Linked DNA regions of Homo sapiens: region 1 is linked to region 2. The links come from fine-mapping of genetic effects on gene expression. A gene starts in region 2. The other region holds a variant in brackets. All regions are shown on one strand. Distances are between the middles of the regions.

What was found. PIP is the estimated chance that this variant, and not a neighbour inherited with it, causes the effect.
Region 1: its variant is the best candidate, but not a certain one, in a credible set for the expression of DIRAS3 in lung (TOPMed, PIP 0.52).

The regions. Positions count from the first base shown.
Region 1 is chr1:67,948,300-67,953,682 of GRCh38, reverse strand. The region is part of intron 1 of GNG12-AS1 (GNG12, DIRAS3 and WLS antisense RNA 1); the gene reads right to left. Among named protein-coding and RNA genes, the nearest start is that of DIRAS3, 100 kb to the left of the region's middle. The variant C/T (reference allele first, on the strand shown) is at 2,845.
Region 2 is chr1:68,048,470-68,053,852 of GRCh38, reverse strand. DIRAS3 (DIRAS family GTPase 3) reads left to right here and starts at 3,226. Exons shown (of 2, transcript NM_004675.5): 1 at 3,226-3,305. All of the region lies in intron 2 of GNG12-AS1 (GNG12, DIRAS3 and WLS antisense RNA 1), which reads right to left. It also overlaps the pseudogene ARL5AP3.

The DNA.
Region 1 (5,383 bases), 100 kb after region 2:
TTACAATATTATATCATATATTATTAATAGTTATAAATAACATATTAGCAATATATTATTATAATCACAAAGAGAAGCAGAAAAGGTCAGAGTGATGCAATGTGAGATGAATTTGACCTGCTGGCATTGGCTTTGAAGATGGAGGAAGGAACCTTGAGTCAAGAAACACGAGCAATCTCTAGAAGCTGGAAAGGGCAAGGAGACAGATTGTTCCTGAGGGCCTTCAGAGAGGAATGCGGCCTTCTGGCCCCTTGACTTTAGCCCAGTAAGACCCATTTCAGACTTCTGAACTACATAACTGTAAGATAATACACTTGTGTAATTTTAAGCCACTAAGACTGTGATAATTTGTTGCAGCAGCAATAGAAAACAAAATACATAATCTCTTTCTAGCTGTGCAGTCTAAGAGTTAGTTAAGTTCTCTAAACAGAAGTTTCCTCATATATAATAATAACAATAATAATAATAATAATACTTAACCCTCGGCTGATTGTGAGAAATAAATGAAGAAATGGAAATAAAATGACCAGATTAGTTCTGGACTGAATTGTGTGTTGCCCAAAATTCATATGTTAGAGTCTTTAACCCCCTATACCTCAGAATTTGACTGTACTTGGAGTTAAGGTCTTTAAGGGAGTAATTAAGGTTAAATTAGATCACATGGGTGAGACCCCAATCCAGTATGACTGCTGTCCTTATCAGAAGGAGAACCACCAGAAATACTTGTGCACCAAGAAAAGATCATATGAAGACACAGTAGAAGATGGCCGTCTGCAAGCCAAAGAGAGAGGCCTCAAGAGAAACCAAGCTTGTCAACACCTTGATCTTGGACTTTGAACCTCCAAAACTGTGAGAAAATAAATTTCTGTTGTTAAGGCCCACTCAGTCAGTGGTATTTTGTAGGGAAGCCCTAAAAGACATACAGCTGGTCATACTAGAGAGTCAATAATACTAATTCTTATTATTACTTGTTCCTTCTTAATAAATATGGAAAATAGTACTACTTTGTGGGATTGCATTAAGGAAAACAGGTGATATAAGAAACCTGGGCTCTCCTTTTGGCTCTGAATCCCTGGCAGCAGCATCTTGCCAAGATACACACGTCACATGTGCTCTATGTCTTTTTTTTGTGTTGGTATTTTCTCTCTTTTGGTTAATGATGGTAGATTGAACACATGTGTCTTTCTTCTGATCCTTCAGTCCCATTAAAAATATTTTGAAAGGGATTTTCTTTTAAAGGTATAAACCTTTGAGAACATGAGAGGGAAAAAAAAGCAAAAAAAAAAAAATCTTTGAAGCTGGAAGACAAAAGGATAAAGGGCAACTGACTCAGCAACCTCAGAACATTGAATCCTCAGCCAGCAGTGAGGGAGGCCAAAAGCAAGCTGATAGGGACCTTAGAGATCCAGGACTCCATAATTGGCAGCATCAGGGATCTGTGAAAGTGTGAGGAGATGGGACAGAAGTGGGGGCTGAAAACCACAAGATCGGTTGGAAATCTATTTACAGTGCACTTAGACTCCTGGATAACCTCTATTGCTTCTCAAAGCTGACAAGTGCCCCTTTCCTTGAAACAGAATACAGAAACTGACTCTCTGGAGACAGTGAACCAAATGGACTCTGGATTGGTGGCCATCTAGCCCCCATTCTGGGTGTAGGGCAGGGATAATGTACTGGAAACAGTAAGGTTTGATGAAAATCTACATATTGAATTCTAAGGACTCCTTATTCCCTTCTCCACCAGGTCCTCAGAAGGCTGGCAGTCTCCAGGCTAGATATGGAGCTGGGGATGGGAGACTCAAAGAACAGCCTTCTTTGAGTAACCTAACCAGTCAAAGAGAAAAGACACAGAGATACTGATGTTGCTGATTGTGACCCTTCTGCCATGAAGCCCCCAGCCCCACTCATGCTCTTTCAAGTCTCTGGTTGGCTTTTTAATATCCTTCTCTTAAATACATGCTGACAGCCCAAGATTGGCAGATACTTGAAGAAAGACTCTACCTAAATGATGCAGACCAAAACTAATCAACAGTGAAACAGGGAATTTGTAGAAAACAGAAACCATATAGGAAAAAATAACTTAAAAGAGAAAAGTAACTATCATTAATCTTAGGAAGCTTTTAAAGCATGTTTTTCAGCAACAATGAAGTGGGCATCCTACCTCTTGGTGACCAACCCACCTCCATCTCTCTGATGATGAGCCCAAGTACTGGATGTGTTCAACTTCACTAGTTTAGACAGGGTCTGGAGTGAGATGGTTCTGGGAAGTGGAGGCAGAAAAGCCAATGGTCTTATTCACATGAACCTGGTCCACCAACTACAGCTGCTAAATCAGGGGATGAGATGAACAGAGGATGAGGGCCTGAGCAGCTCAGTTTCCAGACAGCATGGAGGGCTGGCAGTTCTGACTGCTTTATGCATATGCACTTAATTTGCTTCCCTGGTCCTTCTAAGTGGCAACTCATTAACACCTCCAGGCTGAGGGCTCACATTTTATACTCTAGTTGAATATGCAGTAGCATAATGGAATGTCTACTATGGCTGCCTCTCTGGAAAAGCTGCCCTATTTATTCAGCCACCCTGGAGAAAAGTGGCAGATTTTTTCTTGCAGTGGCAAGAAATACCCGTATGCTGCTTTTAAACACCTTGGAGGTTTAACTTTTTAAATGTTATTCATTTATGCTACTTTGTAACATTATATGTTATATTAATGTTACATATGTAATGATACATGATATTGGGAGGACAGATATTATTATTGTCCTCACTTGGCAAATGAGAAAACCAAGATATAGAGATGTACAAATGATTTGCCTGCAGTCACACAGCTCAACAAGGATGAGG[C/T]AGGGAAGTCTACCTTGACTGTAAACCTTGAGTTCTCTCTACCACATCACATAATTATGAATTTACAATTATATTTGCTTGTTTCCATGTGAGTCTAACCCAGTTTAGAACCAGCAGAGGAACAGAAAGATGGTATGGCATTGCTGAGAGTCTGTGAAAGAAGCCATTAAGGTACGGAAAAATTGAGATGTATGACCAATGACATTGAAAACATTAAAAATTTCCTAGAGTGAGATTCTTCTCCAGTAAGAAGCTTGGATGATCTGAGCCCCGGTACTGGGAGTGGGATGCAGAGCTGAGCGCTACAAATGTAGTTATAAGCCGCAGAGTTTCCTTCATCACAGGACACTGATCACGGGAAGTTTGGGGCCGAGTGAGAAATAGGCTTTATCTCTTATGACTACATTCAGCAAGTGGAGAATGATTCTGGGGCAAAGTCCAGGTGCAGCAGGAAAGAGTACCATGATCAATTTGCAGTGTCTGTCGAGGACTCAGGAGGGCTTTGAAAGCTGTGGCTAAGAGTGTGTCATCCCAAGGCAGGAGTCTGTCAGATGCTTCCTCCAGGATGATAGAGCTCTCTGCCCTCCCTCCACTTGCTTAAAAGCAAAACATAGATTTACAAAGGCAAAAGATACCTTGTCCCCTCTCCACCAGGGTGAACACAGGTTAACCACTGAAGACAGCTTTAGACCTTCACCACCTGGAAATGATACCGGAGGGATTTATATTAACAAGCTTTACAAACCAGCCTTTATCTGCCATTTGTTTACCTTTCCGCACATTGCCAGCTGTAGAGATTCAAAGCCCTTTTCCTTTGTCTTGTCACTTCTCTAAAAATGTACTGTTTTTTGAAAATGCTACTTAAGCTGGAATTCAAAGCCACTTCTTCAAGAACTACTCATTCTCTGGGTATCTCTCACATATATGTGACATATGAATGTTAATAAGCTTCTAGTTGTTTTTCTCTTGTTAAGCTGCCTTTTGTAACAGGAGTCTGTTTCATCTGCAAACCTATGGGGGTTACTATTTTTTGCCTACATCACTATCATACTTCTTGTTGTGTGTATGTTAGTGCAGGCATGTGAGGATATGAGTGTTTTGTTGCCTCCTCTTTGCCCCGCTGGTGAAAGAGGGAGTGTTGCCCTAAGACTCTGAGAATAGCCAAGCACACAACACCTGACGTTGGACCCATGCGATTGACAGCAGTTCATTAGTCACATATACTGACAGCCTGGGGTAGAAGGCACTGCATACCCTGCAGGACCACACAGGGGTTATACTCAACAGAATGAACAAACAGGGCTTTGGGAGGCAGGCTGTGTTGTGACAAGGGGGTGAGGTGGCCCCTGATTCCTGTGGGAGGGTGTACTTTGTTGTTTGAATAATTCCATGGGCTGGTAGGGAGGTGAAACCTGTTATTTTAGGTTGAGGGCCAGGTTAATGCAACTGAGCTGGCTGATAGAAGAATCTTCCCTACTGGGTGCAGGGCAAGGGGCACATCTGACAAGAGGAGGGGGACACAAAGTTAGGCCTCCAGGACTCTGTGAGGCTCAAAGATTTCAAGGCAGCTCCAGAAATTTTAAGCCTTCCAATACAGCATGTGTAAAAGGGGGTGAGGGAGATAGTGAGCAAGATGAATAATCCTCGAGAGTTTAGTAGAAAATAAAGAAGGGTAAGCAGATTATTACTTACTATGATAAATGTTAGGGTATGGGAATGTTCCTGTGGGGACCTGTAAGCAGGACATCTAAGATTTGGATTTTGTTTTTGAGGGGATGAGGCCAAGAAAAGTAACATTTTACCAGTGGTGTGCTGGTTGAGAGGAGCTGGCAGTATCCGGGTCTTTCAGACTCCTAAGCCAAGCTCCTCTCTCTGCTATACCAGAATGCCTTCTCCTTCCAGATTTATCACATTTATTAGCACCATGCTTGACACATGGTAGAAATTCAATGAATCTCTTTAGCAGGAATGTATTCCTTAAAGCAAGTCTAAAGGTATGTGGTGAAGCTCAACCAAAGGAAGGCAGGGAAGGTTTAAATCTGTTAGGTTAAGGAAAGGAAGCTAAGAGGCTTTTCTTTTCTTTCCTTTCCTTTTCTTTTCTTTTACTGGACACCTCCTATGTATTTGCAGTCATTCCAGTAGGCACTCAGCAGGGTCTGTAGTTCATTAGGGTCATATTCCACTGGAAAGCACAAACAAAAAAACAACAGAGAACGATGACAAATGGGGATAGGTGCTCTAAGGGAAACTAACTGGTCACAAATATAGAGAAAAGCCGGGGGAGGAGAAGGGGCCCTACTCTGGATTGCATGGGGGAAATGGAGAAAGGTCTTTCTGGGAGGTAAATTTTAAGCAGAGCCCTGAAGTATAAGAAAGACCCTTGAATGTGAAAAGTGGATGGTCCACTGATGCAGGCAGAGGAATTGGAGTGTGTAAGGACTCTGAGGCAATAGAAACTAGAAACATCTGGGAAAATGTGAGACAACTCACATGCCAGGAATGTAGAAAGCAAAGAAGGGAATGGACAAGAAAGAAGCTG
Region 2 (5,383 bases):
AAAGAAAACTATTTACAAGTTAATATCTGTTGCTCAATCCAATCATTCTCTCACCAATCATTCATTGCCCCTCAATAAATTCCTCTTCTCCTCCCATAATCTGTTTTACCAGAATCCAAGCCCCCCATTCTTTCTGTAATTTCAAGACTAGTGTATAAACTTCTATAACTCATTGAGAAGTTGGGTCTTTATTCTGAAAGCTCCTGTGTATACACATTAAATACATTTGTATGTCTTTTCTCTTACTAATCAATGTGGCCCATGTCAGTGATTTTCCAGCAAATCTTTGGGGGGCTGAGAGCCATAGCCCCCACACCAGTAAACACAGGCAAAAATATATATTGACAATTAGAAAGACGTTTTTAATTTTATTTTATCAACAATTTTAAAACCAATTACTTTTTTAAAGATTAAGTTACATGAACTAAAAAAATTAGGTTAATTACTATGTTTTTGTGTGAGTGCCCATCTATTTAAACCAATCAGATTAACATTTCTTAAGGGATTTTTGGCCTACCACACTGAATTTTATTATGTAGACATAACATACAACATAATACATGTACATATGTGTAAATATATTTAAACAAATATACACATAAAGGTCTTCTAGCTTTTATTTTAGAATTTTAGTTGTGAGATAGTAAAACATATAAACTTGCTGGTTTATAGAGAACAGTTGGATCCAAATTATTTTTCTGGTAAAATGAGATAAAGGCTATGAATCAAATTTTGGTAAAACAGTTTGAGTTAATTACCAGTGCAGGGACCAAAGGGAAACTTCAGTGAAGGCTCACTGAAAAATCAACCTGCAAAAGGCAGATTAATTGGAGAAAAAGCATACAAATGTATTTAATATGTATACATGGGAGCCTGCAGAATGATGACCCAAGCATATAGAGGAAATTGTCTATTTTTAACTTAGGATTAATAAAATATAGACAGCAATGTAGAAATATGATTGGACAGAAAGAGTATGAGCTAATGCCAATAAAATGAGTGGGGAAACCCAGTGAAAAAAGCCAAACTCTGTAAAATATTTAGAGGTTTATTCTGAGCCAAATATGAGTGACCACGGCCTGTGACACAGCATCAGGAGGTCCTGAGAACATGTGTCCAAGGTGTTTGGACTATAGTTTTCTTTTATACATTTTAGGAAGACAGAAGATACAGGCAAAAACATCAGTCAATATATGTAAGGTATACATTGGTTTGACCTGGAAAGCCGGTACATTTTGGAGGAGGAGGGGTTTGGCCAGTGGTGGCAGGAGGGAGGTTGTGGAAGCCAGGGTTCTTGTTACATATGTGAAGCCTGTAATATGCTTCAGAAAGAATAGATGGCATATGTACCTCAAAAGGTAAATGACCTTAAACGGTGTCAGACTCTTAGTTAAATCTCTCCCGGATCAGAGAAAGACCTGGAAAGGGAAGGAGATTGTCCACAGAACACAAATTTCCCTCGCAAAAGATAGCTTTGCACAGGACCATTCCAAAATATGTCAGAAATATATTTTGGGGTAAAATACTTTGATCGCCCTTAGGGCTGCTACCTGTCATGTGATGCTATACCAGAATCAGGTTGGAATTTGTTTTGAGACAGGTTCTCACTTTGTTGCTCAGATTGGAGTACAGTGGCTGTGATCACGGCTCACTGCAGCCTCGATCTCCTTGATGTGGGAGGCTCAAGTGATCCTCCCACATCAGCCTCCCAAATAGCTGGGACTACAGGCGGCCACCACCACACTGGGCTAAATTTTTTTAAAGTAGAGACAAGTTCTCCCCATGTTGCCCAGGCTGGTCTCTAACTCCTGGCCTCAACCTCCTTATTCTCTAGGATTACAGGCGCCAGGCTAGACCTCACAGGTCTTTAGACTTCTACGCACCAGGTACCTGGTAGGGGGAGGGATTATAGTGGCAGAAGAGCAGTACCAGTGGCCCACACCACACACCCTGGCCTCAGCTGGCTGGGGCACACAAAACCAGGTGCTACCGTCAACGACTAGGCCCATAGGGTACTGCTGTCAAAACCTGCTGCCAACAACTTCCACACACTCCCCAAAACGCTCGGTAGGCGGTGGTGCGCAGCTTTCAATGCATCCGCCGCCAGGCGCTCACAGGCAAGGGAGAAAGAAGCCAGACGGAGCTCGGAGATGTGGAGGGCAGACGCAGGCGCATTTGGAAAAGGGACTGGCGGTGGGAGGCGCAGAGGGAAAAAGGAACGACACAATCGGGCTTCCTAGCCGCTGGCGGACCCGATGGGGCGTCCTGCGAGGGTTCGGCGAGGGTTCTGCCAGGATAGTAGCATTGCGCCCAAGGAGTGAGAGGCACCCGGGGCTACTGGAGCCAGACCCTCAACCCGCCCTAGTGGGAGGCGAAGAACAACGAAAGCCTCGTATTCCCATTTCTCTAATGGCTAATGACATTAAAGGTTTTCATATGGTTATTTGCCATCTGCATATCTTCAGTGAAGTGTCTGTTTATGTCTTCTGACTATTTTCTAATTGGATTTTTAAAAATAATTGATTTTTGAGTTATTTACATATTCTAGATACTGGTTGTATGCCAGATATATGGCTTGTAAATATTTTCTCCTAGGTAAACCTTTTCAGTATCGTTACAGGGTCTTTCACAAAGCAAAAGTTTTAAATTTATGGAGTCTAATTCATCAACATTTCTTTTTACCGGTCTTGCCACTAATGTCAATTTAAGAACCTTTTGCCTAGCCTTAGACAATAGTTTGTTGTTTTTTAAAACCGTTTTGTAATTTTACTCGTCACAGTTATATCTAGCCACTTAATTTTTATGTAAGGGTTATTTTTGGCGGGGGGGAATCTATAGATGTCCTGTCTTTTCAGTATCATTTGTGGAAAAGATTATCTGTCCTGCATTAAACTGCTTTTGGACTTTCGTCTAAAATCAGTTGGACCGGTTTTTGTTGGCAAAGTTTTGCCTGAAGCTTATTCCAACAGGTGAGAAAAAGTCCACAGTTTAACAGTTCCTCCCCAACCTGTAACCCCGCCTTGAACTTCTGGACTAGCCCCTCGATTGTTGTAGATGCCAAGCGGACCTCGCGCCGCTCTGCGTTGGGCCAGCCCCTCACAGCTGGTTTCTTACCACGTATTGCGCAAGCGGAATCTATGCCTGTTACCCACACTCCCTGCGCCCCCGCACCCCGCTCCTGTGCGCAAGTCGGAATATAAAACCGCGGAGGAGTGAGCTCTTGGGGTGTCCAGTTGGTTGCCGCGGCAGTCTCTCCGAGCAGCGCATTTGTCTTCTAGGCTGCTTGGTTCGTGCCTCCGAGAAAGGTAAGTCTTTCTTTCGCTTTTTTAGGGGTACTTGAAAACAACAAGTGTCAGACAAAGCAGCAGATGCTGTTGCGCAGTAGAAGTTTATGGGCGAGTTGTCCCTGAAACTGGAACCAGGTCTTTCTTGGCGCGATTACGCAAGAACCACCCGCAGCCCTGCGGGCTCCTGGCAGGTCCTGCAACTGCACTTTGGATAGTCCCGTTGGGAAGCTAGCACTTTTTAATATAGAAGAACGAGGTTTGATAAGTGTGCGAGCTTAAAGGTTGACACAGTGTCCACTATTACAGCTGCGTAGGTAGCTAGTGTTCAGGAAGTAATAGTGGAGTCATGTAGTGTGAAAGTAAGATTGAAATGGGCGAGGAGGGTAGCAGCCGCCACAGCCACCAGAGAGAAACCTGACCTTGCAGGTGCGTGGTGATGTCCATGAGCCAGGCTGGTGCCGCAACAGCAGCGGCGGGACCTTGAGCTCCGCACGGCCGCTGGGTTTGGACGCCCTCTGGTTCCTGGAAACTTTCACCTCCCCCTCAGCCTGAGGCCAGGTGGCCTGGGAAGGTGGAAGGAGTGTGGAGGGGAGTGGGGGGGGGGGTCCACTGCCTGAGAATGAGAATTCTCTTCACATCTGGAAACTTCAGTTATCACGTGTGTCCTTTACCAATTTTTTTTCTTTTATTTTCTTTTTGATAGAGACGGCGGTCTCCCTATGTTACCCAGGCTAGTCTTGAACTCCTGTGCTTAAGCGATCCTCCCACCTTGACTTCCCAAAGTGCTGGAATTACAGGCATGAGCCAATGCGCCCGGCTGCTTTACCAATTTTCTATGAATGAATTTGTACATACATCCCCTAGAGCAGGAAGTAATGTAAAACAGAATAATTAGTAATGCACATTTCCTAATGTGGGATGTTGGTGGCCAAGAGATATTTGGTCTTTACTGGAACTCTTGATACTAACATGGAGTTTATAATAGTTGTGGAGAGTGCAGACAAGGCTAGGATTTCTGTGACTAGAGAACTCTTAGTGCGTGAAGACCTAAGGAAAGCTGGATTGTTGATTTTTGTTAATAAATAAGATGTGAAAGATTGCATCACTGTAGCAGAAATCTCCTAGTTTTTTAAGCTAAATTCTATTAAAGGTCATCATTGCTAAAGGAATTGTGCCCAGGATTTGGATAGCTGATGTCATTACTTAATATTAGATGATATCAACTAACCACATCTCATAGACTGGAATAAAGTGCTAGATTTTACCTGAAAGCTGCAAAAATGAATGGTTTAGATATATGTATGTATTTATTTTATATCAATTTCAAATATTTACTGTATTAACCTCCCTGGCCCCCTTTAATCAAGAATATAAAATCATCTACTTAAATTTTGCCACTTAAGTTTAGAACACTCTTAGAATCACACTATCTTAAAGAAGCCAGACTAGAATTAGAAGCAAGTTAAGTCTGAAGATATAACAACCAGCAACAACATTTTTTTTTTTCAAATGAAAACTCTAATATGGGGTGGGTATGTTGTGTCACACCTGTAATCCCAACACTTTGGGAGGCTGATGCAGGAGGATCACTTGAACACAGGAGTTCAAGACCAGCCTGGACAACATAGCAAAACCCTGTCCCTACAAAAAATAAGAAAATTAGCTGGGCATGGTGTCACATGCCTGTAGTCCCAGCTACTCGGGAGGCTGAGGTGAGAGGATTGATTGATCCCAGGAGGTTGAGGCTGCAGTGAGTCATGATCGCATGACTGCACTCCAACCTGAGGGACAGAGCAAGACCCTGACTCAAAAAAAAAAAACAAAAAAAAAAAAACCACCACCAAAACTCTAATATGGACATATTACTCTCTCATGGGACTTGCACATTCTAAAAAGGGTCCTTTTCCCCAGTACTGGGAGAGTATGTGTTCAACTACGCAGCCAGCAAGACAGGCTAGTTTATATAGGGAGTGTGCTATTCACAAAAAGCCTCTCTTCTCTTTCTGGTATTGTACATGACACAATCATAGCTGTACCTGAAGAGAAGTGCATTTTAAGGACCATCATCACCTAGAAACATGTATAAATTTCTATAC